4 linked regions of the Homo sapiens genome follow. The protein of the gene in region 2 purifies or fractionates together with the protein of the main gene of each other region. This does not show direct contact. Each region holds a gene or a part of one and is shown on either strand. Other genes may lie near its edges. The genes, in order: SNU13, FBL, C1QBP and RRP9.

The links.
Region 1: the proteins of FBL (region 2) and SNU13 purify together in Homo sapiens (affinity purification with mass spectrometry; 5 studies listed by BioGRID and IntAct, with this or other methods). This does not show direct contact.
Region 3: the proteins of FBL (region 2) and C1QBP purify together in Homo sapiens (affinity purification with mass spectrometry; 6 studies listed by BioGRID and IntAct, with this or other methods). This does not show direct contact.
Region 4: the proteins of FBL (region 2) and RRP9 purify together in Homo sapiens (affinity purification with mass spectrometry; 5 studies listed by BioGRID and IntAct, with this or other methods). This does not show direct contact.

What each region holds. Positions count from the first base shown.
Region 1 is NC_000022.11:41,678,865-41,685,890, forward strand, and holds part of SNU13 (NHP2-like protein 1), read right to left. Parts: intron 3,724-7,026; exon of another isoform or gene 3,495-3,723; coding exon of another isoform or gene 3,492-3,494; intron 1,501-3,491; coding exon 1,380-1,500; intron 1-1,379.
Region 2 is NC_000019.10:39,843,365-39,850,414, reverse strand, and holds the start of FBL (rRNA 2'-O-methyltransferase fibrillarin), read left to right. Parts: upstream 1-4,035; 5' UTR 4,036-4,114; coding exon 4,115-4,124; intron 4,125-7,050.
Region 3 is NC_000017.11:5,436,138-5,443,509, forward strand, and holds the start of C1QBP (complement component 1 Q subcomponent-binding protein, mitochondrial precursor), read right to left. Parts: upstream 3,019-7,372; 5' UTR 2,937-3,018; coding exon 2,705-2,936; intron 2,137-2,704; coding exon 1,986-2,136; intron 1-1,985.
Region 4 is NC_000003.12:51,932,913-51,938,914, forward strand, and holds the end of RRP9 (U3 small nucleolar RNA-interacting protein 2), read right to left. Parts: intron 5,293-6,002; coding exon 5,183-5,292; intron 4,825-5,182; coding exon 4,757-4,824; intron 4,675-4,756; coding exon 4,633-4,674; intron 4,407-4,632; coding exon 4,280-4,406; intron 3,644-4,279; coding exon 3,519-3,643; intron 3,438-3,518; coding exon 3,345-3,437; intron 2,781-3,344; coding exon 2,680-2,780; intron 2,565-2,679; coding exon 2,430-2,564; intron 2,348-2,429; coding exon 2,285-2,347; intron 1,865-2,284; coding exon 1,719-1,864; intron 1,640-1,718; coding exon 1,560-1,639; intron 870-1,559; coding exon 796-869; intron 688-795; coding exon 594-687; 3' UTR 517-593; downstream 1-516. UniProt on the Homo sapiens protein: Component of a nucleolar small nuclear ribonucleoprotein particle (snoRNP) thought to participate in the processing and modification of pre-ribosomal RNA (pre-rRNA).

The sequences.
Region 1 (7,026 bases), on a different chromosome or scaffold from region 2:
TCTCAAACACAGTTGACAAAATCTCTGATGTTTCCATTAAAAATCTTCAACGACAAAAGAGCTCTACCACATCAAACTACCCAGCATCTATTAAAATGAGAGTATTCTGGCTGGGCATGGTAGCTCACGCCTGCTGTTATCCTAACACTTTGGGAGGCCAAGGCAGGCAGATTGCCTGAGCTCAGGAGTTTAAGACCAGCCTGGGCGACAGAGCGAGATTCTGTCTCCAAAAAAATAAAATAAAATAAAAATAAGGCTGGGCAGCCGGGCACAGTGGCTCACGCCTGTAATCCCAGAATTTTGGGAGGCCAAGGCAGGCGGATCACTTCAGGTCAGGAGTTCGAGACCAGCCTGGCCAACATGGTGAAACCTCGTCTCTACTTGAAAAAAAATAAAAATAAAAATAAGGCTGGGCACAGTGTCTCACGCCTGTAATCCCAGCAGCACTTTGGGAGGCCAAGGCAGGTAGATCACCTGAGATCAGGAGTTCGAGACCAGACTGACCAACATAGTGAAACCCCATCTTTACTAAAAATACAAAATTAGCTGGACGTGGTGGTGCATGCCTGTAATCCCAGCTACTTGGGAGGTTGAGGCAGGAGAATCATTTGAACCCGGGAAGCGGAGGTTGCAGTAAGCTGAGATCCTGCCATGGCACTCCAGCTTGGGCAACAAGAGCAAAACTCTCCAAATAAAAAAATAAATAAATAAATAAAATAAAATTAAAAAAATAATAATGAATAAAGTGAGAGTATCCTATATCACCTCTGGGCAGAAGCATCATGCATACATAATTATTCTACTGAAAAACAGCTTTTTTTTTTTCCTTTTTTACAAAGGGAGGTAGTGCTCGCTTCAGCAGTACATATACTAAAATTGGAACAATACAGAGAAGATTAGCATGACCCCTGCACAAGGATGACATGCAAATTCGTGAAACGTTCCATGTTTTTGAATAATTGCATCCAAAAAAAAAAGGGAGAGGGGTAGGGAATGTTTCTGGGAACCAAATGAAATTCATGAATGTTAAGTATCCACCGTATAAGGGATGCTAAAAAGCATTAATATCCCTTTCCTTCTGATGGCTCTGGTGAGGTCATACAGCCACTATACAGTCTCCACAACTGCTTTCAAATGGCTCAGCAAAAATAAAATTCACTTATAGAGTGAAAAAGAAGGTAAATGTGGCAAAATGTTAACAATTGGTGGGTCTAAAAAAAATTCTTAGCCCATCAGCTTTAGCATCTAATGCCAAAGTCCTCCCACTGGTTGTAGTCGAGAGCAGCTAGCCCTCCTCCCAAACTGGAAATCAGATCAGAGGCCCCAGATGGAAACAGGTGCCTTTAACATTCCCCCAGAGCATCCTGTGGCTGCCTTACCCTCATTGGCTCCTTTCCGAAGCTGCTTATAGTTACATGACTGCTGAACGAGGTCCAGTAGCTTCTTGGTGAGGTGGGCATCGGCAAGGGGATAGGCCTTTGGATTCACATCAGCCTCAGTCTATGGGGGGGACATAAAAATATCAGACAAATTGAGCCAGAAGTTTTCCTACCTGAGTCACAAAATACTAATCAACAATTGAGACACAGGGGGCAGCTGCCCTGCTCCCTAACCCTCAAACACACAAAACACCAGGTAGTTAACAATGGACTTTCCACTCCTACCTTCGAAAAAAAGGAAATACACTATTAGGAATTACACAGTTCAGTAAAGTATACTAAAGCTCATGTACTTTTGTCTTTCTTCAGCCGAATGTTTGATAATATTACAGCAAATGGATTACAAACGGGTTCCCATGGCTCCGCATCCATTTGAGTCCATGGCTAATCCATTTCTGTTTTTATTTTTTAGATGGAGTCTTGCTCTGTTGCCCACGCTGGAGTGCAGTGGTGCGATTTCAGCTTACTGCAATCTCTGCCTCCCGAGTTCAAATGATTCTTGTGCCTCAGCCTCCCAAGTAGCTGGGACTATAAGCGTGCACCACCATGCCAGGCTAATTTTGTATTTTTTGTGGAGACAGGGTTTCACCGTGTTGGCCAGGCTGGTCTCAAACTCCTGGCTCACGCCTGTAATCACAGCACTTTGGGCGGCCGAGGCGGGTGGATCACCTGAGGTCAGGAGTCCATGGGTAATCTTTAAATTTGAACTTCCGTATTCCACCTGAATTTACTGAATCAATAAGATATAATTTACAGTAAATGTAGCACAAAGTTTTCTTTCCATTCCCCACTCCATATGCGTATCTTCTGTTCAAACCCATGGTTTCCAACACATTAAAGTATTTCCTCACCTCCTCTACAATACACACAAAATGGTTCCAAAATTGCTACACCAATATACCACCTCTACCAACAAACTCACCAAAGTCAAAATTTATTTTTGTTCTTAGGATATATCCTATCAAAGCCATCCAGTGGCAGGACTTTGTTCAAAAGTTATTCAAATTAAAATTTTCCTTGTGGTTAGCAATTTGGTATACAAGTAGATTTATTTTGTAGTCAGCTTGCTTTAAATTTTATTTTTCAAATATGTAAAATATCTTCATGGTTTAAAAGTCAAAACTATGCAAGTGATAGCAACTCAATATTTTGAAAACTGGGAAAGGGAAACAATCATCTTCTGTGCCTTTCCTAAATGCTGTATTAGGCGGTAACCAGGTAGAAGATGAGAAGTACCTCTTGTATCACTCTTCCGCCTAATAAATAAAGAGGGAATGGTACAGTTAAATATCACCAACTTGCAACCCTTATTAACTAATTAATGGCATTTGCAGTTATGTTAAAAATTCTTACTTTATAGATATATACTGTAATACTTATGGATAAAATGATGTCATTCAGATCTGTGTCAAAATAACCCATGTAGGGGACGAGCGCGGTGTCTCACGCCTGTAGTCCTAGCTACTCGAGAGGCTGACGCAGAATAGCTTGAACCCAGGAGGCGGAGGATGCAATGAGCGGAGATGGCGCCACTGCACTCCAGCGTGGGCGACAGAGCGAGACTCCGTCTCAATAAATAAATAAATACACACCCATGTAGGGAGCATATTGGGTGAGTGGCCTGCCTATTCCGCTCCTTCCATCTCATTCCCACTGCTCCAGTAAATCATTTTCATTAATTTTTCTCTTTTTTTTTTTGTTTTTACAAACACATATTTATATACAAGGATATATTCATATTATAACCCAGGTGCGGCCCCACATGTCGCCATCGTGTGTAACGTGCGAATCGCGAGTGATTCACTGCGGCTACCACCTAACCTCGGCCTTGGAGGCTGGACATAGGGTGGACGGCAGTCGCTGGAGACGGAGATGGCCTGGTGGGACCACTCATCTATAGCGCCTGCCTCGGTGGTCTCCTGCCCGACACCGCGCACCTGCCTTTTCCTCCTTCCGTTTTTTTACAGCTTTTCTGACACAGCGGGACCACGCTCGCGGCACCACAGCTCTCGGGAGGTGACCCGGAGATAATGGCCCAGTAGGAACACTCACCATAGCGTCTGTCTTGGTAGTCTCTTGCCGGACACCGCGAGGATACCACGCGTGTCGGTTTGGACGGTCTGCTGCCCAGCACCGCAAGGACACGGATGCCCCGCCCCCAAGAGCAGGAAGTGACGCCACTGCCGCCAGCGGAAGTGACGTCCAGGGCCAGCCCGTACACCAGGACGCCCTGTCTTCTACGTAACTCCTTATCTTAGGCGAATTTGTCTTGGTCCCAGGACAACTAGGAAGAATTAGGTGAAGGATGGAGGAGTTCTCTAAAGGAAGGGGGTTGGGGGAGGTCAAGGGAAGACCTCCATATTATTTTTCTCTTCCTCATACATTTATTTATTTAGAGACGGAGTCTCCCTCTGTCGCCTAGGTTGGAGTGCAGTGGCGCGATCTCGGCTCACTGCAGCCTCAGCCTCCTGAGTACCTAGGATTACAGGTGACCGCCATCACGGCCGGCTGATTTTTGTATTTTTAGTAGAGACGGGGTTTCACCACTTTGGCCAGGCTGGTCTCGAACTCCTGATCTCAGGTCATCTGCCTGCCTCAGCCTCCCAAAGTGCTGGGATTACAGGCATGAGCCACCGCACCTGGCCATCCTTTCTTTTTAATGTCTATAGAGTATGTCTCCTTCACATGTTACCTACTTAAACATTTTCTTTTTTGAGACAGGGTCTCGCTCTGTCACCCAGGCTGGAGTGTAGTGGTGGCATCTTGGCTCACTGCAACCTCCTCCGGGGTTCAAGCGATTCTCCAGCCTCAGCCTCCAGAGCAGCTGGTACTACAGGCATGCACAACCACGCCCGGCTAATTTTTCTGTATTTTTAGTAGAGAAGGTCTTTCACCATGTTGGCCAGTCTGGTCTCCCAATTGCTGACCTCAAGTGATCCGCTTGCCTTAGCCTCCCAAAGTGTTGGGATTACAGGCGTGAGCCACCGTGCCTGGCCTTATTTTTTCGATTAATCTTTCTGAGGGGGACTTTCCTGGGCTCAAGTGGTCCTCCTGCCTCAGACTCCCAAGTAGCTGGGACTACATGCATGCACCACCACGTCTGGCTAATTTTTTAATTTTAGAGGCACTGTCTTATTATGTTGTCCAGGCTGGTCGTGAACTCCTGGCCTCAAGCAATCTTCCTGCCTGGGCATCCCAAAGTACTGGGATTACAGGTGTGAGCCACTGTGCCCAGCCCATTTATATATTTTTTAATCTTTCACTATTATGTAAATGCTATAATGTCTAATCTCATCTATACCTAATCTATATTATGTTTCATTCAGTATATCTGTAAGATAAACTCCTAGAAGTGGGATTAACGAGTCAAAAGATATAATATGCATTTGTAACTTTTATATCTATTCTAAATTGACCCTATATAGGGTTTAACAACTTGCACACCCACCAGCAATGCATGACAGTGACTAATTCCCCAAAACTTTGACAACAGTGTCAAACTGAACTAGCTTCGTTGCCTGGGGTAAATATCCAGGGTTTGTTGTCTCATGCCAAGAAAATTTAGGACATGGACACACAGGAGTTTAGGAGCAGGGTTTTTTTTTGTTGTTTTTTTTGAGATGGAGTTTTGCTCTGTTGCCCAGGCTGGAGTGTAGTAGTGCGATCTTGGCTTACTGCAACCTCTGCCTCCTGGGTTCAAGCAATTCTCCTACCTCAGCCCCCACCAGTAGCTGGGATTACAGGTGCGCGTCACCACACCGGGCTAATTTTTGTATTTTTTAGTAGAGACTGGGTTTTGCCATGTTGGCCAGGCTGGTCTCGAACTCCTGACCTCAGGTGATCTACCTGCCTCGACCTCCCAAAGTGCTGGGATTACAGGTGTGAGCCACTGCGCCTGGCCGGGAGCAGAGGTTTAATAGGCAAAAGAAAGAGAAAGAACAGCTCTCTCTGGTGAGAAAGAGGGGCTTCGGAAAGGAAAAGACCCAGCAGTATGCTCTACTTTCTATTTCAGCAATTTCTCCTTTTGTTTTTTTTCTTTCCTTCTACTTTCTTTGGGGTTATTTTGTGCTAGTGTTTTTTTCTACCTTTTTATCCCGTTTCTCCCTAGCATTAGCATCTTAGGCTCCAAGTAATACTTTCATTATATCCTTTCATTTGTTTCTTCCCCCCTCTGCCCTTGTCACTTATGCTCTGGTATGTGGTATTTTCATTATTGTTCTGTTCTATTTTTGAATTCCTACTACAATTTTTAAATCTCTCTGATAGTTTATATTTTTCATTTCAAACTACTTTGTTACTAATTTTTAACTTATTTCCTTTTGGGTTAGGCAAAAATGGTATGTAATATTACCAATGTTAAAATTTGCAGGGCTTGCTTTATGGCCAATTTTCAAAAACGTTCCATGTTTGAAGAGTGTATTCTGAACTGGCTGCAGTGGCTCAGGCCTATAATCCCACCAACTTGGGAAACTGAGGCTGGGGACTGATTGAGGCCTGAAGTTTGAGACCAGCCTGGGCCACACAGTGAGACCCCCATCTCTAAAAATATTTAAAAACTTAGCTGGGGCAGTCCAGGCACAGTGGCTCACACCTATAATCCCAGCACTTTGGGAGGCCAAGGTGGGTGGCTCTCTTGAGGTCAGGAGTTCAAGACCAGCCTGGATGACATGGTGAAACCCCCGTCTCTACTAAGAATACAAAAATTATCTGGGTGTGGTGGCAGGCACCTGTAATCCCAGCTACTTGGAGGTTGAGGCAGGAGAATGGCTTGAACCCGGGAAGCGGAGATTGCAGTAGGTTGAGATGATGCCACTTCACTCCAGCCTGGGCGAAAGAGTGAAACTCCATCTCAAAAAAAAAAAAAAAAAGAATTACACCCTTTTTGTTGTTGAGACAGGGTCTCACTCTATCACTGAGACCAGAGTGCAGTGGCATGACAATAGCTCACTGCAGCCTCGACCTCCAGGGCTCAAGCGATCCTCCTGCCTCAGCCTCCTCAGTAACTGGAACTACAAGTGTGGGCCACCACTCCTGGCTAATTTTATTTTATTTTATTTTTTATTTTTTGAGACGGAGTTTTGCTCTTGTTGCCCAGGCTGGAGTGCAGTGGCACAATCTCGGCTCACCGCAACTTCTGCCTCCGAGGTTCAAGCAATTCTCCTGCCTCAGCGTCCTGAGTAGCTGGGATTACAGGCATGCGCCACCATGCCCGGCTAATTTTTGTATTATTAGTAAAGACGGGGTTTCACCATGTTGGCCAGGCTGGTCTTGAACTCCTGACCTTGTGATCCGCCCACCTCAGCCTCCCAAAGCGCTGGGTTTACAGGCATGAGCCACTGCACCCGGCCAACTCCTGGCTAATTAAAAAAAAAATTGTTTAGGCTGGGTGTGGTGGCTCACGCCTGTAATCCCACCTCTTTGGGAGGCTGAGGCAGGCAGATCACTTGAGGTCAGGAGTTGGAGACCAGCCTGACCAACACGGCAAAACCCCGTCTCTACTAAAAAAATACAAAAAATAGCCGGGCATGGTGGCACATGCTTGTAATCCCAGCTACTCGGGAGGCTGAAACAGGAGAATCGCTTGAAC
Region 2 (7,050 bases):
TAATAAAGTTTTAAAAATTAATACATGTGTGTTTGTTTGTGTGGGCTGTCTTAAAATACCATAGACTGAATGGTTCCAATAACAGAGATTTATTTCTTACAGCTCTGGAGGCTGGAAAGTCCAAGATCAAGGTGCTGATTGATGTGATTCTCTGTGAGGGCCCTCTTCCTGGGTTGCATCTCTCCCTCTCTCCCTCTTAAAAAGTCACTAATCCTGGCCGGGCACGGTGGCTCACACCTGTAATCCCAGCACTTTGGGAGGCCAAGGTGGGTGGATCACCTGAGGTCAGGAGTTCGAGACCAGCCTGACCAACATGGAGAAACCCCGTCTCTACTAAAAATACAAAATTAGCCGGGCGTGGTGGCTCATGCCTGTAATGCCAGCTACTCTGGAGGCTGAGGCAGGAGAATCGCTTGAACCTGGGAGGTGGAGGTTGCCGTGAGACGAGATCATGTCATTGCACTCCAGCCTGGGCAATAAGAGCAAAACTCTGTCTCAAAAATAATAATAATAATAATAAAGTCACTAATCCCATAATGAGGGTTTACACTCATGACCTCCTCCAACCCTAATCCCTCCCAATGCTGTCACTTCCAAATACCATAACAATGGGGGTGAGAACTTCAACAAGTGAATGTGTGGGGAGACAATTCAGCCCATGGCCATGTGTTATCTATACCATCAACAGGGTGGGAAAAAATGGAGAATGAATAGACTGGGGGCAAGTGATAGGATTGCTGGTCAGCATTAAGCATTTGGGTTTGTAGTCATGAATCAAAACCGAGACCAGCCAGGGTGATTCTGTATTTTTCTCCATCCACATTCAGCTGCCAGGGGTGCAGGTGCAGAATAAATGGAGGGTTGAATTCAGTTCATAGTTTGGAGGTATGCAAAGGTGTGGTAATAATGATGGTGGGGAATCTGGCTAGGTAGTTGAGAGTGGTGTGGCCATGATTGGGGGAGGGATAGCAACAAGTCAGACAGCTTAATGGATGGTTAGGGCTGAAGGCTCACTGGTGCAATCTTTAGAAGGAGTGAGCTGGAGAGACAGGAGGTGACGGGCAGAGCGTGAGATGCATGGAGCTGAGATTCTGTAGGGGCTGTGGTTATGCGGCTGTTGCCATCTAGAATGGGTCCTTCTCCCCCACCAGGCTGGGACCTCTGGGGCTGTCACAGTTATGTGTTGTTGTGTGTTCCCAGCACAAGGTCTAGGTGTGATCATGGGAAAGAAGGGTTGGGTGGAGGACAAGTGCAGTGGGGGAGAGGAGGTCAAGGCACCAAGAGGCCAGAGTGGTAAAAGGATCATTTACCTGAATTTGAAAATCACCAAGAATAATGACAGGAGTGGTGTGGGTGACAGTGAGCCTGAAGCTAAATGACGAGGTGAGCAGAGGTGACTTGGGAGTCAATGGGTCTAGCAGCACAAAGGGGAGCAGGTGCTACAGTGTGACTGTGTAAGCTTCAGACCTAGGGTTCAGGGAGGAGGCAGAGACAATGGTTTAGAAGTGCCAGTGAGGAGCAAGGACGCTCTTCTCCCATCTACAGATCCAGTGGACATGAAGGCCGAGAAGGAGAAAACAGCCCCGCTTGGAAAGGGAGGTCTTCAGGGCAGAGTCCTCCTTAGAGCAAGAAGGTCACAGGAAGGTTCAGAGGGAGTTGAGGAAATGGGGAATATTGGGAAAAGTCCTCAAGGGCTTCGCTATCCCTGCCCTGCCCTGCCTGCCAGTGTCTCCTCCATCCCCCTCCCACCTCTCTGCCTGGGCCTCCCCTATCCTGGCCCTGAGCCCCCTGCCTGGGGCTCCCCAGTCCCATTTCTGCCGGTGCTTCCCCCATTGCCCTCCTACCCCTCTGCCTGTCCCAGCCCTGACCCCTCTGGGCCAACACTGTTTGGGAACCTGTCTGTCTCTCCTATTGGACTGGCAGCTCCAGGAGGACAGGACCCGGGGCTGTTTTAGCCACCATTGTGTCCCCAGCACAAGACCAACAGGCACCTCCACCACTAATTACTTACCGATAGAGCCAATTTCAGGTCTTCAGAGCAAGCTAGCAGGCAAAGTATCTCAGAAGCAGGAGATGGTGCCAGGATTCCAAGAAATAGGGCTGGAATCCCCTAAATCTGCACTGCACTCTGAGTACTTTTGTCCTTTAGAAGAAAAATATTAATTAGAAGGCAAATAGTAAAATCCATGTGAAATAGGTAACATTATCCGGAATTGGACCCACTGGAATCATTGCACATCTAGAAATCCAGAATAGACTCAACTATTTCATCTCATAGTTTTTAAAAAGTTTTTTTTGTTTGGTTTTTGTTTTTGTTTTGGGACAGGGGTGTCGCTCTGTGACCCAGGCTGGAGTGTAGTGGTGCAGTCATGGCTCATTTCAGCCTAGACCTACTGGGCTCAAAGGATCCTCCTGCCTCAGCCTCTTGAGTAGCTGGGACTACAGGTGCAAGCAACCATACCCAGCTAATTTTTTATTTTTTGTAAAGATAAGGTCTCACTCTGTAGCCCAGGCTGGCCTTAAGCTCCTGGGCTCAAGCGATCCTCCTGCCTCGGCCTCCCAAAGTGCCTGGATTACAGGTGTGAGCCACTGCCCCGACCGGTTCTGAAAAGTTTAAGCAGATTTTCCATCATAATATCTAAACAATCTTTCAGGAATGTTTCTGTGCAAATTGGTGGCATTCCACAGCTGGAACACTGTACACAGAGAACTCACAACGGTATGAGGCCATCCATTCATTCAACAAACATTTACTGGGCACCCAGAGGGCTGTCCTAGGCCTAGAGTGATAGAGCAGTGAATGGAACAGAGTCAACATCTAGGCTCTGGACTGGTAGGTTCTTCTGGAGTTTTTCGGTAACTTCTCATAACAGCAGTTGTCTTGCTTTGCAGAATGAATATAGGGATGGATACTGATATTACACAATTACAAAGCCCAAAATTCTTAATACTTAAGCAGAATCTGTTGACCCCTGACGCCGCTCTCTGCCCCCACTCTGATCTGTCCATCCTTTTCTTCTGATTCACGGCAGCAGCCAGTCCTTGGTTTTCCTGCTTTCACCCTCACTCCTGCAGTCTGCTTCCCACATGCAGCCAGAGGGACCTGTGTCAGATCACATTCCTTCTCTGCTTGGAACCCTTCCATGGTTCCATCTTACTGCCTAAGTCCTCACTATGTCCCACAAAGCTCCGCACAATCTGCCCTTGTTAGCTACCCGCCCTTATCTCCTCTTACTCTCCACCTTGCTCACTTTGCCCCACCCACCCTCCTCATTGTCTCTCCAACTTCCCATATCTTTCCTTCCTCAGGGCCTCTGCATCTGCAGATCTTTTCCCTGCCTGGAACTCTCTTCCCCTAGATAGGTGCATGCCTCACTCCTCACTTCCTTCAGCCCTTTAGCTCAAAAGTCTCCTGATGCATTCCTTGACCACCGTGCCAAAAAAACAAAAATCATTTGCCCTCCAAAATCTCTATCCCCTTTCCCTGCTGTTATTTTCTCCAAAGCACTTATCGCTTTCAAACATTCAACATGTTTGGTGTCTATTTCCTCCATTAAAAAGATGAACTCCAGGAGAGTGGAGATTTTTATGTCTCGTACACCGCTGTATTCCCAGCTCCTAGAACAGCACCTGGTACACACGAGGTGCACTGTAAATGTTTTTCGGATGTTTGAATGGAAGCCCAGAGTCGGTCACTGTTCTTGGGGCTGGAAATGTATTGGGGAAGCCTTTTTGGGTGTACAGGGGCCAGAGGGATTTAGCTAGGAATACAAAAGAGGGCACAGCCCGTGCGAAGGCTATGAGCCCTGATTATTGGGGTGCTCGCATTGGGGAAGAGGAAACCGGAAGCGAGTTTAGGGCGACCGCTGCACAGGCAAAGGCTGGGAAGGCAGAGAGCGAGGGCAGCGGGTTGCGTGTCGACAGGCTCGAGAATCCAGGCTCACTGCGCGTGCGCCGAGCTCCGGGCGGGGAAGGGGCCCGGGGGCGGGACTACGGGGTGGCGTCACGCAGCGCACGTCGCCGCGCGCCTGCGCTCTTTTCCACGTGCGAAAGCCCCGGACTCGTGGAGTTGTGAACGCCGCGGACTCCGGAGCCGCACAAACCAGGGCTCGCCATGAAGCCAGGTCAGGCTGGGGTGAGGGTCCGGGGTCAGGGACGGAGGCCGGGCGGGAATCCGGGTGCCAGGCCAGAATCGGAGGGGTGGGGCCTTGGCCTGGGGGCAGGGGTTCTGAGCACGGGTTCCAGTCTCCTGTGGGAAGGGGGATTCTGATTCCAGCAGGTCTAGGGGTTTGTGACTGGCTTCAGAGGTCACGGTCGTGAGTCGAAGAAGGCCGTGGGCCTGGCATTGGGGGTGTTGACGTGGGGTTCGTCTCATTGAGGCCGTCTAATAGGGATTTTGGATATTGGGCAGGAGGCGGCACTCAAGGGTCTTGGGCTAGAGTTTGGATTCAGGCATCTGGAGTCTTGGATCGCTGGGCGTGTTTTGGGAATCAGGCTTGGGTCGGAGATGGAGAGTTCCTGACCTTGGGTCCTGGAGCTGTGTGTGGGAAGCCCCCATTTGCCTTCCCTGTCGCTGCCACCACCACCATCCCCTTATCCCGCATCCCAGCTTTTCCGAGTGGGCCGGAGTGGATGAGGACTCCCCGGTTGGCCGTGTGCGGCGCTCTTCGGCTCACTTTCCCGCCTTCTGCACTTACAGTGGGGCGGATCCCCGGGGATGGAGTGGAGATTTGGGGATTAAGATTTCCACCTCCGGGACGAGACTTAACAAGCTCGGCATTAGTCTGGGGTGGTGGGGCGGGTGGTTGTCACAGGAGGTAAGTAGTTTTATTCTTAAGATTTTCCACTAGATTCTGCTGAAACCACTCCCTTCATGGTGGAATGATGAGGGGGTCCTGGCTTTGACAGCAGAAGGGCCTCAGTTCAGTGTGTCAGCTCTTGCTCAGCTTCTTAGCCTGCTGTGTGAACTTGGGCAAGTGGCTTTACCTCTCTGAGCCTCTGTTTTCTCATCAATAAAATGGCGCCAGTTAGGATTAAGCGACGTTAAAAAAAATAGCACAGTGCTTGACATATAATAGTATTAGCTCTAATTGTTACCTTTATCTTTCTCAAAGAGAACAACATTAGAATCCTTCTCGGTGGTGCCTGAGCACTTCCTCCATCTGGCCTGCCCAACCCGCACTCATCTGTGTGAGAACTTGCTTCATTGAGTTTGGAGAATTTCCACCATGGCCCAAAGGGTCTGTTTTCCTAGTACAGGCTTTCTTTTTCTTTTGTGTGTGTGTTTGTGTGGAGAGATGGGGGTCACCTGGCAGGAGATTTGTGGATCTGTGCCCTTCTCCCAAGTTCCCTTTCTCTTCCGTGTTTGGGGATCTCTTGATGAAGTGGGGTGGGGGATTGTAGGCCAGGTATGCTGAGATCCTGGCTTGCCTGCAGGCATTCTGGTCTGTGATTCCCTCATAAATGGAGGATACCCGTTCTTCCAACCTTCCTCCATGTGTGGTAGAATGTGAAGTTGTAAAAGTTGTCAGGTGTTAGCTCTTTAGTAAGGATTTTAGCCTGAGTGAGAAAAGAACCCTTTGGGAGATTTTTGAGCAGGGGCGTGGTGCAGTCTGACATTTTTAAAAGGGATTCTTTTTGCTTCGATGTGTGAAAGACCTCAGGGTGGCAAAAGTGGAAGCAGGCACATTGGTGGGAAGCTTGTTGCTGTAATCTAGGAGATGGTGTGGTGGACCAGGATGGGAGCAGTGGACATGCTGACAGTTTTACATGCTTTTGAAGACAGAACCAACAGATTGTATGTGGGTGTGTGATCGGAGTCAAGGATAACCAAGGGTTTGGGGGTGTGTAACTGGAAGGATGGAATTGCCATTTTTGAGATGGAGAAGGCTGTGGAAGGAGAGCAGATTTTAAATCAGGGGGTTTATGGACCCCCCTCCCCCCAAAAAAAGAACTTACTGGAAAAGTTTGTGTGAACATGTGTTTTTTCTGAGGACTGGGTACTTTTGGTACATTTTCCCCCAAAAGCTCCAGGACCTGAAACGGATTGAGATGTTTTGAGTATCTGGGATTGAAAGTTTACACTCATGCCCACTCCGCCCCAAGCACATGCCAGTACTTCCTTTCTGTTAGGCCTGGGTTGAGACTTTCATAAGCCTAGCTGTGGCATCTCCCCTAAATGAAGGTCTTGGCTTTGGAAAACTGTTGGAGGGCTTGGGCAAGAAAATTGAGATCTGAGTTGCTGTTTCAAAAACAGCACTTATTAGTTGCTGTGTGGAAAGTGGACTGTAGGGGGAGTAGAACATTAAAAAGTGAACAACTCTTAGTTATGTTCTAGAGTTTTGAAAAGGAAACTTCATTTTAAAAGATCAAATTAGGAGTAGCTATTAAAAGTTACATTTTCATCTTTAATAGAAAGATGAAAAAAGAACTAACTGGAAAAGTTTGTGTGAACATGTGTTTTTTCTGAGGAATGGGTACTTTTGGTACATGAGGAGGGAAGAGGAGACGCGTACCCCTGAGTTTGAATGATGATGTTCAAAGTAGGTGCCAGATAGTATATATGTGATGTGCTCTGTGGGTACAAGTCATTTAATCTTTACAACCCTATAGGATGAGCACTGCATTTTTTTTATTTTTATTTTTTTGATACAGAATCTCTCTCTGTCACCCAGGCTGGAGTGCAGTGGCACCATCTCAGCTCACTGCAACCTCCGCCTGTGTTCAATTGATGCTTGTGCCTCAGCCTTTTGAGTAGCTGGGATTACAGGCATGCGCCACCACGCCCAGCTAATTTTTTGTATTTTTAGTAGAGACAGGGTTTCACTATGTTGGCCAGGCTGGTCTTGAACTCCTGGCCTCAAACTGTCCGCCTGCCTGGGTCTCCCAAAGTGCTGGGATTACAGGCATGAGCTATGGCGCGTGGCCTGGCACTGTATTGTCTCCATGTCTTACAGATGAAGTTTTCAAGACCCCTATGAACCTTCCTTACTAGGGTCGAGAGTGGCAGCAACATTGCCTATCTCTCCATATGCGATACTTGAGGGGAGT
Region 3 (7,372 bases), on a different chromosome or scaffold from region 2:
GAGGCAGTCTGAGGTTGACAAAATCTGTCTAATTCCAACTGTGCTGACTAAGCTGAGCTCCTGGGCACAGAAATTGAATGACGTTCATCAGAGCATTATTTTTAATGGCCCCCAAATAGCTATGAAAACCTTGCGCAAATGGTGTTTAGGTGAGATTACAGAAGACACAATTGACCTGTGTAGGGCAAAAACACACTATGCAACAGGCAAGAGAATCAGGACCCTACTTCACACCATATTCAAAATGAATCACAGACCTAAACTAAGAGCTAAAACTAGAAAACTTTGAAAAAATTAAGGCATACATCTTCACAACCTTGGGTTAGGCAGTGGTTTCTTAGACGTGACACTAAAAAAGCACAAGTTGCACTTGGTGAATTAGAAGCAAAGTAAAAAATAAATAAAAAAGCACAAGCGACCAAAAAAATAGGTAAACTGAACTTCCTCAAAATTAAAAACTTTTGTGTCAGAGGACATTACCAAGAAAGTGAAAAGGAAACCCACAAGATGGGAAACAGTACTTACAAATCATTAATTTGATAAGATAGTTGTACCCAGAAAAACTTAACTTTTACAACCCAACAATTAAAAAGGTAAATAGGGTGGGCAGGGTGGCTCACACCTGAAATCCCAGCACTTTGGGAGGCCAAGGCGGGCGGATCACGAGGTCAGGACTTTGAGACCAGCCTGGCCAACACGGTGAAACCCTGTCTCTACTAAAAATACAAAAATTAACCGGACGCACGCCTGTAATCCCAGCTAAGGAGGCTGAGGCAGGAGAATTGTCAGAACCTGGGAGGCAGAGGTTGCAGTGAGCCAAGATCGCACCACTGCACTCCATCCTGGGTGACAGAGCAAGACTCCGTGGGGTTGGGGGGGGAAGCTACAAATTGTATGACTCCATTTATATGAAATGTCCAAAAGAGGCAATCCCATAGAGAAAGTAGCTTAGTGATTACCTGGGGTGGCTACAGGGAGGAATAATGAGTGACTGCTAATAGGTATTGTTTGGGGATGACAACAGTGTTCTAGAATTAGGTAGTGATAACTGATGCATAATTCTGCGAGGACTAAGAACCACTTAATTTAATAAACTTCAATAAATGGGTAAATCGTATGCCATCTCAATTAAATCTCATAAAAGCTGTGATTTAAAAAAATTACATACACATCATAAGGTCAATTATGAAGGAAATTCAATTTATTTATTTATTATTGAGATGGCGTCTTGCTCTGTTGCCCAGGCTGGAGCGCGGTGGCGCGATCTCGACTCACTGCAACCTCCACCTCCCAGGTTCAAGCGATTCCCCTGCCTCAGCCTCCCGAGTAGCTGGGACTACAGGCACGTGCCACCATACCCGGTTAATTTTTACTAGAGCCAGGGTTTTAGTGTTAGCCAGGATTTTCTCCTGACCTCATGATCTGCCCGTCCCAAAGTGCTGGGATTATGGGTGTGAGCCACCGCGCCCAGGCTCAATTTAAAAACCTGGAAGATGCCAAATGTTTATCTGTGTAATGAGATTATGGATGACTATAATGCAGAAAAGTGTAAACACTTTAACAGTTTAGGAGATGATGGGGGAGCTGACTTAGGTCACAAACTCCCCACCTCTGATGGCAGCCCTTACTACAGTGTAACCCCATCCTGTTACATAGAAGTTACATATTTTTCATTTTCACCCATACTAAACATTAGAGAGCAGTGTCCTATTTTATCAGGGCTGTAAATCAGAGATCAAACTGATTCTGCCAGTACTTTTTTGCACTACATTTTTGTCTCCTTAGTAACCAGCCCACAGCAAATTTGTGTTCGGTGAATGGACTGCCTGGGGCTTACGAAGTTGTCCAAATGAATCCTTCACTCTCTTGAAACCCATTTATCAAAGTATCCACACCTGAACTCAAGGCTCTTCTGGGGATGACCCAGGATGGGTCCTGCAAGGTTAAGGGAGTTGCTGCCCTGGGATCCCCAGACCAGTACTTACTTTTCCCCGGCAACTTTCCGCACTAATTTCGCTTCTGTCCCATTCAGTTCCAGCTCCCAACCTCCAGACATCTTAGGGAGGGTTTTATGCTTCTGAATTTTTCTTTCCTCCTTAATTTCATCACTCAGGAAATCAACAAAAGCTTTGTCTCCTAGAAAAGAAATCCAGATACATAAAAAGGAAAGCCAGTTAGTCTAAAACATAAAACTATTACCCAGGTTATTGCAGCCAGAAACCTGGACTGTTTCTAATCTCTCTGCTATTACGGTTACTCTAGAAGCCTGTTTCCTTATCGGTAAAAATACCATAATAGTAGTAGGAAGCTGAGCCTGATTCTGGAAAAGTGATTTCCAACAATGAACGCATTACCACTTTCCGCTATAAACCAGGAGAATTTCCAATCCTCTTCCACTTGCCAAACGATATAACTATGCTATTTTCAACCACGACCATGGGCCTTCCCAAAGGTCCACTTTCGATAGAATAAGACTAAGGAAAAAGGTACCCTAGTATTTAATTTTATTCACCCCCTACCAAAAGAAAACGAAACTGCTGGATAGGGGAGGTGGGGGAAATATGATCATACGTGGGTTTAGCCCGCTGGTTGCCAATCAATGGAAAAATGTCCCAGACCTCAGAGGTCGGTTGCAGGCCCTATTCCTGGTCTACGTTTTCCCTCTGTTGAACGCAAACCACACCCCCGGCCCGCTAAACCTCACCGTCGGTGTGCAGCGAGCCGCAGCCACAGCCACAGGCGCAGGGTCCGCGAGGCCGCAGGAGGCCCGGCCGCCGCTCGGAACCTGCGCGCACGCTGAGCAGCCCGAAGGGCCGGGTGCACAGCCGGGGTGCCGGCTGCAGGAGCTGCCGGAAAGGCGAGGCGGGCGCGGCAGCGCGGAGGCCGGCGACGGAGGAGCCCAGCACACGGGGCACGCAGCGCAGCAGAGGCAGCATCGCGGAAACGACTGCGAACACGTGCAGATGCAAAGGACAACCCAGGCCTAGGCGCCCCGCGACCTGAGGCGCCGCCGGAAGCCCCGCCCCTGCCCGGAAGCGCTTCCCGCGCCGGCGCTCTGACGACCTAAGGCCAGCGGGCGGAATCGCGCCCTCTGCTGGAGACTCCGGTGCAGCCCGGGAAGCCTCGAATCCGGATTCCGGAGCTTTCTTGCTGCGCTGCCGAGTCCGCTGTCCGAAGCTGTTTAATTCCCTCTAGTGGCCGCTTACCCACTTTCCACCTGCTGTTCTCAAAGCACGCAAGGCTTTTGGGCTGCGTGGAATGCACTCTTGTCTCCCGCCAGCTCTCACCAGACCCTTCCACGGTCACTTTCCTCTAGGAGGCTGTGGTGTTATGATATATATATGTATTGGTTTTCATCCACAGTTCCTGGGTCGTAACTCCTATAGCCCTTGTTACAATGTTCTGTGATAATGTTGGGTGTGTTAGGCCTCAGGAAACAGACTCTCCCCTTCTCCTGCCCTCCTTTTACCTGCCCCAAAGCAGGACTCTAATCTCCTTCCACATTTCTGATTATGGGTCTTAAGTCCCTTCCCAGAGAAGGTCCCACCATATACCCTGGGGGAAGGGATGCTGATGTCCAGAAGCTTCCATAAAAACCCAAGAGGAGAGGGTTTGCAGAGCCTCTGACAGCTGAATACGTAGAGGTTCCTGGAGGGTGGTGGCCCAGGGTAGGCAAGGAACCTCGGAGCTTCTTCCCCATTCCCCACCCTGCTCATCTCATCTGTATCCTTGGTCATATCCTTTATATGAAACCGGTGAATGTGTTTCCCTGAGTTCTGTGAACTGCTCCAGTGAGTTAACATAATCCAAAGAGGGGGGTCGTGGGAACCCCAACTTGAAGCGGGTTGGTCGGAAGTTTCAGAGGCCCAGACTTGCCATTGCTGTCTGAAGGTGGGGGCGGTCTTGGGGACTGAGCCCTCAACCTATGGGATCTGACACTATCTCCAGGTAGATACTGTTGGGATTGAATTGGAGGACACCCAGCTGGTGTCTGCTGCTTAGTGTGGAGGGGAAAAACCCAAACCTTTGGCCACATAAGTCTTCTGTGTTGATTGTTGTGTTGTGAGAGCAAAGGAAAGTCTGAGGGTTTTCCTGAAAGAGGCCTTCTAGAACCTTTTTTTCCACCGGCTCGGAACTCATGCTTGTGCGCACCCAGCCCATATGCTTCATTCTCTTTTCAACAGGAACCTCCTAGCGTTGCTGCTTTAACCAGGTTAAACCCAACCAGACTGTGACATCCTCAAGGGCAGGATCCATGATTAATTTTTGTGACCTTCCCTCTCTGCACCTCCAACCTTGCATCCAAGTTCTAATGGAACATCATTTTTCTGGGGACAAGAAGCCAGCTTATATCATTTAGATAAGTCCAGAGGCTTCCATAAAAACCCGAGGACAGGGTTTGGAGAGCCTCTGATAGCTAAATACATGGAGGTTCCTGGAGGGTGGTGGTCCAGGGACGGCATGGAGGCTGGGAGCTTCTTCCCCATTCCCCACCCTGCTCATCTCCTTATCTGTATCCTTGGTCATATCTTTTGTATGAAACCGGTAAATGTGTTTCCCTGAGTTCTGTGAGTTTCTCCAGTAAATTAATATAACCCAAAGACAGGGTTCAGATTTATTAAAAATCAACAATCCTACCTTCCCAGGATATACAGGACATATAAGCTACTAAGAAGGTATGTCTTACTAACTCATGGTAAGACTAACACTTAATATTTTCTAAATAATTTTCTATGAATAATGGAAAAGAGATGCAAGAAACAAGCCACACACATCATATACAAGATTCATTTTTAATGGATTTGATCGTCGGGTGCAAATTTGAGCATTATTTACAAGAGCTTTCTGTAGAGTTATTTCTGTTCAAATAAAACCAGACTCTCAAAATACAACATAAGCCTGAACCTACTTGATTTTTTTTTCTCCCTCTAGTTACCAAGGAATATCGTATCTCAGATGCATGGCCTACTATCACACTGGTCTTTAAAGAAAAAAAAAAATGCATGGCCACAGTTCCAGGCAGTTCCTGGTAGCTGGATTTAGTGGATTTATATATGACAGTACAGTACATCATCAGTTTCACCCACAGGGCAGAACTTGCCTCCATTCAGGCATCTCTTTACAACTGGCAGCAATGCAGCATTAAGGGTTTTTAGCCAGGACCTGCTGTTTGCAGTCCTGCCCCTTGTAGTGTTACTCTGGGTGTTGCACACTCCATGATTACTAGAAGACAAACACCTGAGGCATGCAATCTGCTTGGAGTGCATCTATTTACATGAAGCTGCTCACGGGAGCTGGTGATTCTTCCAGATATGGGTTTCGTAGGTTGGCAAAGAGTTATCACACCATCAGAGATTTTACCAATGGAAAGAGAGTAGCTGAAGATTATATTGCAATGTTATTGTGAAACATTTAACTTTCTTAAGTTTAAAGTGTACTATCTCCTGCAGCTCAATATAAACAACGATGTATTTCTTTGTAGCAGTATGTGGAGTCAGAATGGGTTTTCCAATCTGATTTAATCCCTGAGCAGCTATGTTAAAAGTTAACTTTTTAAAAAAGCCCAATAAAAAACTAAATACTGTATTAAAACTCTACCACAATGTTACAGGGATAAACTTATTTCTGTACAGAAACATTAAAGCTACTTAGAAGCTGTTTACATCCTTTGCCTCTCAGAAAAAAAATATACATTTCCGGAAACTGTTCAGGTACTTAAGCTGGACATAAATTACCCCAAGTTTTTTCTTTTTCTTTCTTTCTTTCTTTTTTTTTCTGAGACCGTCTCACACTGTCGGCCAGGCTGGAATGCAGTGGCGTGATCTTGGCTCACTACAAACTCTGCCTCCCAAGTTCAAGCAATTCTTGTGCCTCAGCCTCCCCGGTAGCTGGGATTACAGGCGTGTGCCACCATGCCCAGCTAAGTTTTCTATTTTTAGTAGAGACGGGGTTTTGCCATGTTGGCCAGGCTGGTCTTGAACTTCTCAAGCAATCCACCCACCTCAGCCTCCCATCCCAATGCTGGGATTACAGGCATGAGGTGATCCGCCCGCCTTGGCCTCCCAAAGTGCTGGGATTACAGGTGTGAGCCACTGCGCCCGGCCACCCCCCAATTTTTTTTTTTTTTTTTTTTTTTTTACCAGCACTATGAATGATTAAAAATACAATATTTTTCTTACTAAGTAGGACTAAACATTCTAATCCCCTACTGGAAAACAAAAAACAAAAAACAAAAACTGGAAAACTTTTCAGAAAGTCAGCAGTGGTAACAAGTCAGTAAGTGGAAGAACTGGTTCAAAGTTTAAGAATTCAGTAAGATAAGGTATATAGGAGCTGTCAGATCTTCTTTTGCCCACGTATAACCATTTCTGACAGACAGCCCTAAACACTAGCTGAGAGCTTGACTGCACAGGACCACGGCTAGTGTTGGAAATAAAGACTGAGCCGGACTTGACATACACAACTCCGGACAGATGGGACCCTGGAATGGGGCTGCTCCATCAGGCCACAGCTTCCAGAAAGAGAGCATCCATGATCTCTGAAGAGCCTCTTGGGCAGCTTGGCCCCTGGTTATAACTATGATTCATTCATTAAGAAATGACAAAACACCCCACAGATGTATTTGGACCAAGTAAGCACAATAAAAGAGCTAAATCACGGCTTCTTCTAGGGCAAAATATTATCTGGGGAAAGATTACTTGCTTCTGATAATTAAATAGCTAAGAGGAACCGTTAGTGCCTTTTCTCTGCTCAGAATATCAGAACAGGAACAGACTGTGGATATCCTCCAATTCCCTCTGACAATGAGGGTTAGAGAGAGGTGCCTAGCAGTTAGAAAGCAGCAAAGCCAGATTGTCCCAAGTCCCTACGAAGAAGGAAAAAATATCATAGAAAATTAATAAGATGCAAGAATAAGTGTTACAGCTCTAGCTCTTTTAGAATTTGTCCAGCAGGTCTTCTAGACTTCACTGAACTGCCCCCCACCCCCCCCGCCCACACACCAAAAAAGATACAAGAATGTAAGCCCAGATGTGGTGTGGTATCTGGCATAAGCCAATGTTCTCTGGGTTCTAGGTACCCCTCTCCCCTCCCCCACCCCCACCCCCTCTGACCAGGGGACTGCCCGAAAAGAAACAGCTGAAATGGTACACAGTCACTCCTCATGCCCGCATGTTCACTGGTGCCCAGTTAGAGAGAAAAATGGCAACTGTGTATGTGGGAGTCACCTACACACACAAAACACTGATAGGTCAGTTTCCCATGTCTACACGTGACAGGATTCAGAAGGTACAAATCAACCTTCACCCAGGAAGCTTACATGTCTCCTGAAAGCACTGACAGGGTCACGCACTGAGGACCAGGAGGCTCCTTT
Region 4 (6,002 bases), on a different chromosome or scaffold from region 2:
GGCAGGTAGGTCCTGGTTCTGACATTCAGACCAAAGACAGAGCTCTTCCCAACTTGGACCCCTGTCTCCAAACAGTAAGCCCACCAGTGCAGGGTCCCACTCCCACTCCTGACCCCCACACCTCACGGCAGTCTGTCCCCTCCAGCTTCCTGACCTGACCTGGGAGAGGAAGCGAAGCCAGTTTGATGTGCAGGTCCGCTGTCTACAGTCCAGTCCTGACCCCAGCACCAGCCCTTACAAGCCCTGGCTTCTGAGCTGAGGGGTGAGTAGCTTCTGACCCCGACCACCCAGAGCAGTGGCAGGCAGCTAGCCTGAGGAGGTCGTGCAGGACACGCAGGGACAGGAGCCAGGAGCCAGTTGAGGTCTCCATCCCAAGTTCTTTGGAAAAGGATAACAGCCCTCAGGCTAGCAGAGGGGCAGAGCTAGGAGACTGCTGGAGTCCTGTCCCTCCCCAGGCCGCCTCCCACCCAGTCCCTCATGCACCCCCACCCCCACCAAGAAGCTACAAGAAACAAGGCCCAAAAGAGGAGGCTTTTAATACAAAGAGGGTGGGGCATAGCCTGGGAAGGACTTAAATAAGGAGGATAAGAGTGTCAGGAACCAGCAGCTGGGGGTACAGGGACCCTGCGGAGTGGGATGATGCAGACAGAATTCCGAGCCTCTTTGATTCTCCACCATCGGCCAAGCCTGCAGGGAGTGCAAGACGCAGCTGAGACTCGGCCCAGTCTCCACCCCATTTCCACCGAGCTGTCCAGCCTGCACCACCTTACCTGAACCCTCGAGGGCCACACATACCTGTGCTCCTGCCCTACCCCAGCCACCAGGAAGTCCCCAGAGCTGGAGAACTTGAGGCTGTTGATAAAACCCACCTGAGCAGAAAGACAACACGGAAAGACATTAGAACGCCCCCCGCCACCACCGTCCTCAGCATCACAGTCAAGGGCTGGGCCTTATCAGGCCTGGGTTAAATCCCTGCTCTGCCTCCTGCCACCTGGTGACACAGGCCAGCCCTTCACTTGTCAGGGCCTCAGCCTCCACATCTGCGAGATGGGGGTAAGCAGAGCACGGGGCTAGCAGTGAGTTTGTGAGGATGAAGGAGGCAGTGTACACCCAGTATGGCCTGAGGCTGGCTCCTGGTGGTGGGGCCCTGGAGACCCCATGACTGTCCCCACTGACCTAGACCCTGCATTCTCAGCACACATCACTGACAGATCCTGCCACCCTCCCCCAGGTCACCCTAGTGTGGACAGTGAGGTCCACACCCTCTAGCCTGGCACCCAATCTGGCACCAGCAGTACAGAATTCATCACAGGGCCAGGCCTCCATGCCTCTCCCCATGCTGCTCCCTGACTTGTACCCCAGCACCCTGGACAGGGCCTAGGATAGGAAGGGGAGCAGAGGAGGGAAAGTGGGGAGGGTTCCTGCCAGGCCCTGTGCTAGGAGCTGGCCCTGCCCTGAGAAGGTTCCCTTCTGGCAGGAAGAAAGACCTTAAAGAGCTAACTCCAGGGGCCTAGGCAGTGTGGCAGAGACAGGCTGAGCATTCAAGCACACTCACTCACCAGGGGGATGTCACAGAGAAGGTCAAGCTGCCGGAAGCCTTCCCCACACTGCCAAAGCCGCACACAGGAGCTGTGGGAGCCTGGGGAGACTGGAACAGTGAGCAACCCCTGCACCGGCCCACCCGGCGACCCCTCCTCCCTGCCTCTCAGGGCACCCACCTGTGGCCACAAGGTCTGTGTTGAGGAGGGCTGCCACCGACGATATCCAGAAGGGCTGCTCCAGGCCTGGCTCTCCCCGCAGCCCGTGAGCTTCACGCTGCAGGGCAAGTGGTCGCTTCTTGGAGAGACCCCACAAGGCCACAGAGCTATAAACAGGGAGGGAATACAGCAGTGAGGGGGCCAGAGGCAGAAAAGGCCCCCTGTGTAACACAAAGGATTAATGCTTGAGGGGATGGATACCCCATTTCCCATGATGTGATTATTACATATTGCATGCCTGTATCAAAACATCTCAAGTACCCCACAAATACGTACACCTACTAAGCACCCACAACAAATTTTTTTTAATTCTAAAAAAAAAGAAAAAAGGCCACATGACAGGAAGGGATCAAGGGCACACAGCCCGGACAAGGCCATCTGAGCTCTCTGCCTCATCATCCTCATCCATGAAAAGAGGTTACAACAGCTCCCCCACTGGGGGTGCCCTGAGGCAAGCTCAGGGCCCCGTGGACAGCCAGCACTCAGGAGCAGAAGCCGTGGCCAGAGACATCCAAAGGACCTCTTACCCATCGTCCGCGCCGGACACCATGTGCTCCTCATTGATTAGGTGGATGCAGTCGATGGAGCCCCTGGAGAAAGGGGCTGTGAGGAGCGTGGCCCAAGCCCACCCCCAGCCCATGTAGCCCCCACTGGCATGGCAGGCCACCTTACTGGTGGCCATAGAAGACAAGCTGGGACTCCTCGGGGATCTTCCACACACGTACAGTCCCATCCCGGCCCCCAGCCGTCACACAGCACTCCCGGCTCAAGGCATCCAGTGCAGCCACAGCGTCCTGGTGTCCGAAGCTAGAGGGCCGGGCAGAGCAGGATAGTGGGGATAGGGGTACTGCATGAACTCACGGGCACACACTCCCACACCCTCTCTCACACCATCCACACACCCTCTCCCATCCACACTCACAGCGTCTCCACGTAGGAGTTCTCTGCCACATTCCACACCTTCACGGAGCGATCGTGGGATGTGCTGTAGAGCTGGTGGGTGCCTCTGCGGAATGCCAGACCCTAAGGGTGCATGGGGAGAGGGCAAAGGGGACCTGGACTACAGCAGGCGAGAGACAGGTCAGGCCCAGGGAGGACTTCCCAAAAAGCAAGCCATGTGGCACGTGCTGTGAGGCAATTTTGTACTGCCCACATGCCCATCTGCCCCTGAGCAGATGCAGACGTCTTTTTTATTTATTTATTTTTTTTAGCGACAGGGTCTCATTCTGTTGCTCAGGCTGGAGTGCAGTGGTGCGATCATAGCTCACTGCAGCCTCCATCTCCTGGGCTCAGATGATCCTCCATCTCGGCCTCCCAAAGTGCTAGGATTATAGGCAAGAGCCGCTACATCCCGCCCAGAGGCGGCTTCTCAAGGCCCTCGTTGATTCCTGAGCAAGCTCGGCCCGGTCTCCCCCAGCTCCTCCCCATCCCTTTAGCCCATTTATGTATTTTACAGCACCACTCGCTACCCACTCGCTACCCCAGGATGCAGGTTCCCTGAGGACAGAGACTCCAGAGGCCAGCACTGAGCCTAGAACACTAGCATGTGCCCACTAAAGATCCACTGACATAGACCCAGCTCCTCACCGACACTGCATCCCGGTGTCCTGTGAAGGTGTACAAGTGCTGGCAGCTCTGGGCCTCCCAAATGAGAATGAGCTTGCTGCGGTCACCAGAGGCCTGCAGGGATGAAGACAATGATCACAGGCACCCACCATGCACCAGACCTCCCGCCTGCCCCCAGGGCCAACCTGGCCTTACAAGGTACTTGCCGTCGGAGGAGATGGCCATGCAGAGGACGTGGCTGCTGTGGCCAGGGGGCTTTCCCTCGGCACCCTTCTTGGCTCGAGGAATCACATGCAGCTTCCGTCCACTCTCCACGCTCCCTGCAGTTGGGGGTGGGGGAGAAGCTACTGGGATGGGGGGATAGGGCTGGCTGGCAACCCCCCTCAAGGGGCAGCATGGAAAAAAGAGCCATGGCAAATGTCCCGGACTCGGCCAGAAGACCTGGCTCAGCCACCGTGAGCCTCCGGACAAGCTGCCTCAGTTTCCTCATCTATGAAGAGGGACATTAGTGCCAAACAGCAGCCACAAAGCCCAAAAAAGAGAAGGGATGTAAAAGGGCTTTGGGATTGATGGTGTGAGTTCTTCTGTTACTACAGCGGGTGTAGAAGGAACCGCTGGTCAGCCAGCAACGGATGGGAACCCAGGAGGACCGGGCACTCAATCCCAGGACTGCACAGCCTCAAATGTCTTCTAGTCCAACCACCTACCTGCAGCATTAATTCCCATTAAATCATCATCCTGACTTTGCCCAAAGGTCTCTAGGGACAGGGAGCTCATAAGCCCCACTGCCGGGCAGCAGCTTTCACTGTCACCCAGAGAGCACTCCTAGGGCAGCAAACCTGCCTCCAGAGACTTCCCCACTTCAGGGCTCAGCCTGCCATGACCACTCCCACTCCCCTGACCAGCCCTCCCGGATCCGCCATGGGGGCTCCAGCCCCACCCAGGCACTCACTCACACTTAATGATGCTGCAGTCTTTGGCAGCAGAGAAGATGGCTGAGTCATCGGGGGTGACGACCAAACATGTGATAGAGAGCTGGTGCCCCCGTAAAACGCGAATGTCAGCTGAGGCTGGGGCCTGGATCTGGGCAGACAGGGGCCAGGTCACTGTGGCTAGTGGCATAAAGGCACTACCTTCACCAACCCCACTGCGTAGTGTTGGCCTTTCCCACCCAGGCCAGAAGGAAAACAAGACCCAAGGCTACAACAACCAGATCCTTACCTGACCAGATAGGCCCAAGTGTCCACCATGTTCCAAGTGGGGCCCCCAATTCCCTCCAACCTTATACCAAAATACCATGCCCACTCACCTCTTTTGCCACCAACTTCTGCAGCCTGCCCCTCTGCTCAAGCTGCATGGAGAAGAGATGGATGAGACCCTGGGAGCAGATCAGCTCCACCCCCGTCCTCCCCCAACTCTCCCTCCACACTTACCACATCCTCCTTCAGGCGCCCCGCCACCTGGTCCTCCTCAAATGCACGGGCCTCAGCCTTCTCCTCCTCTGTGCAGGACAGACCAGACCAAGTAAACTGAGGCTGAGACCCCTCTTTCCCTTCCATCCTGTCCCCATCCCACTGCCCCAGGGCTGGATAATGCAGGAAGCTCCAGCTGCCTCAGCAGAGGGGAGGGCAAGCTGGAGGGTTTCCTCCTGCCTTTACTTATCAGATCAGCCCCCTGCGGGCTCCCCAGGAGGCCCATGAGAGCTTCTGGCCACCCCCACAGGGCAGCCAGCACTGACAGCCTGGGCACCCACTGGGAATCCATGTCAGTCACCCATCAAGTGGCTGGGGCTGCAGCGGCGGGCAGCAGACCAGCACAGGCAGAAGCCCTGCCCATGGCTGGCCTGCCCACTGGCTCACCTTGCTGACGGAGCTGCTCTAGGTAGAGCTTGGCCAAGCGCAGCTTCTTTTCCTGTGCAGTTTCCTCCAGCTCCTCCTCCTCCTCCTCCTCAGGCTTCCTTGGAGCTAGGCTGTGGGCAGGAAGGGGCTGGGTCTGAGGGGCTCACCTTGTTCCTCTGACCGCTAGGATCGTGCCTTCTGGATGCTCACCTTGCCATCCAACCTCCCCTATTCCCTGCTAGCCCACATGGTCGGTGACTACACTGCAGAAAACTGAAGGATGTGACTCCCCAAACTAAAAGGCCCCACTCAGTGCCCCACGTAGGGGTGGAAACAGACCCAAATCCCAAAGAGATCACTAAAGCCTCTCAACTCTGGGGGAAAGAGGAGGCTTCCAAGAGAAACCAGGCTTCCAAAAGAAATCAGGTCACATACAAAGAGTCAGGAATCAAAATGTGCAGGCATCTCAACAGCAATACTGAGAACAAGAAGACAAAGAAGCCTCACACACAAAGCTCTGGAGGAATACACTGACCCCTAAAATGCCATGCCCAGTCAAACAATCAACGACGACACTGCCAGGTGTGCAAGGTGCCATGGAATTTTCTCCCTCTTTTTCTTTAGGAAGGATAGAAGCTGTGCTCCCAAACAAGAGGGTAAACTGGGAAAGAGAAAGGCAAGGGATACCGGAAACCAGAGATGCGACACAAGAGAGCAGAAAGGGTGACACTATCCCCAGACATGACGGGGGCAGTCTGGATCAGATCCAAGGACCCACCAGGCAGACACACCAGGACTGTCATCACCACAGCACCATCCTTTACCCTGGGAACAAGGTTCC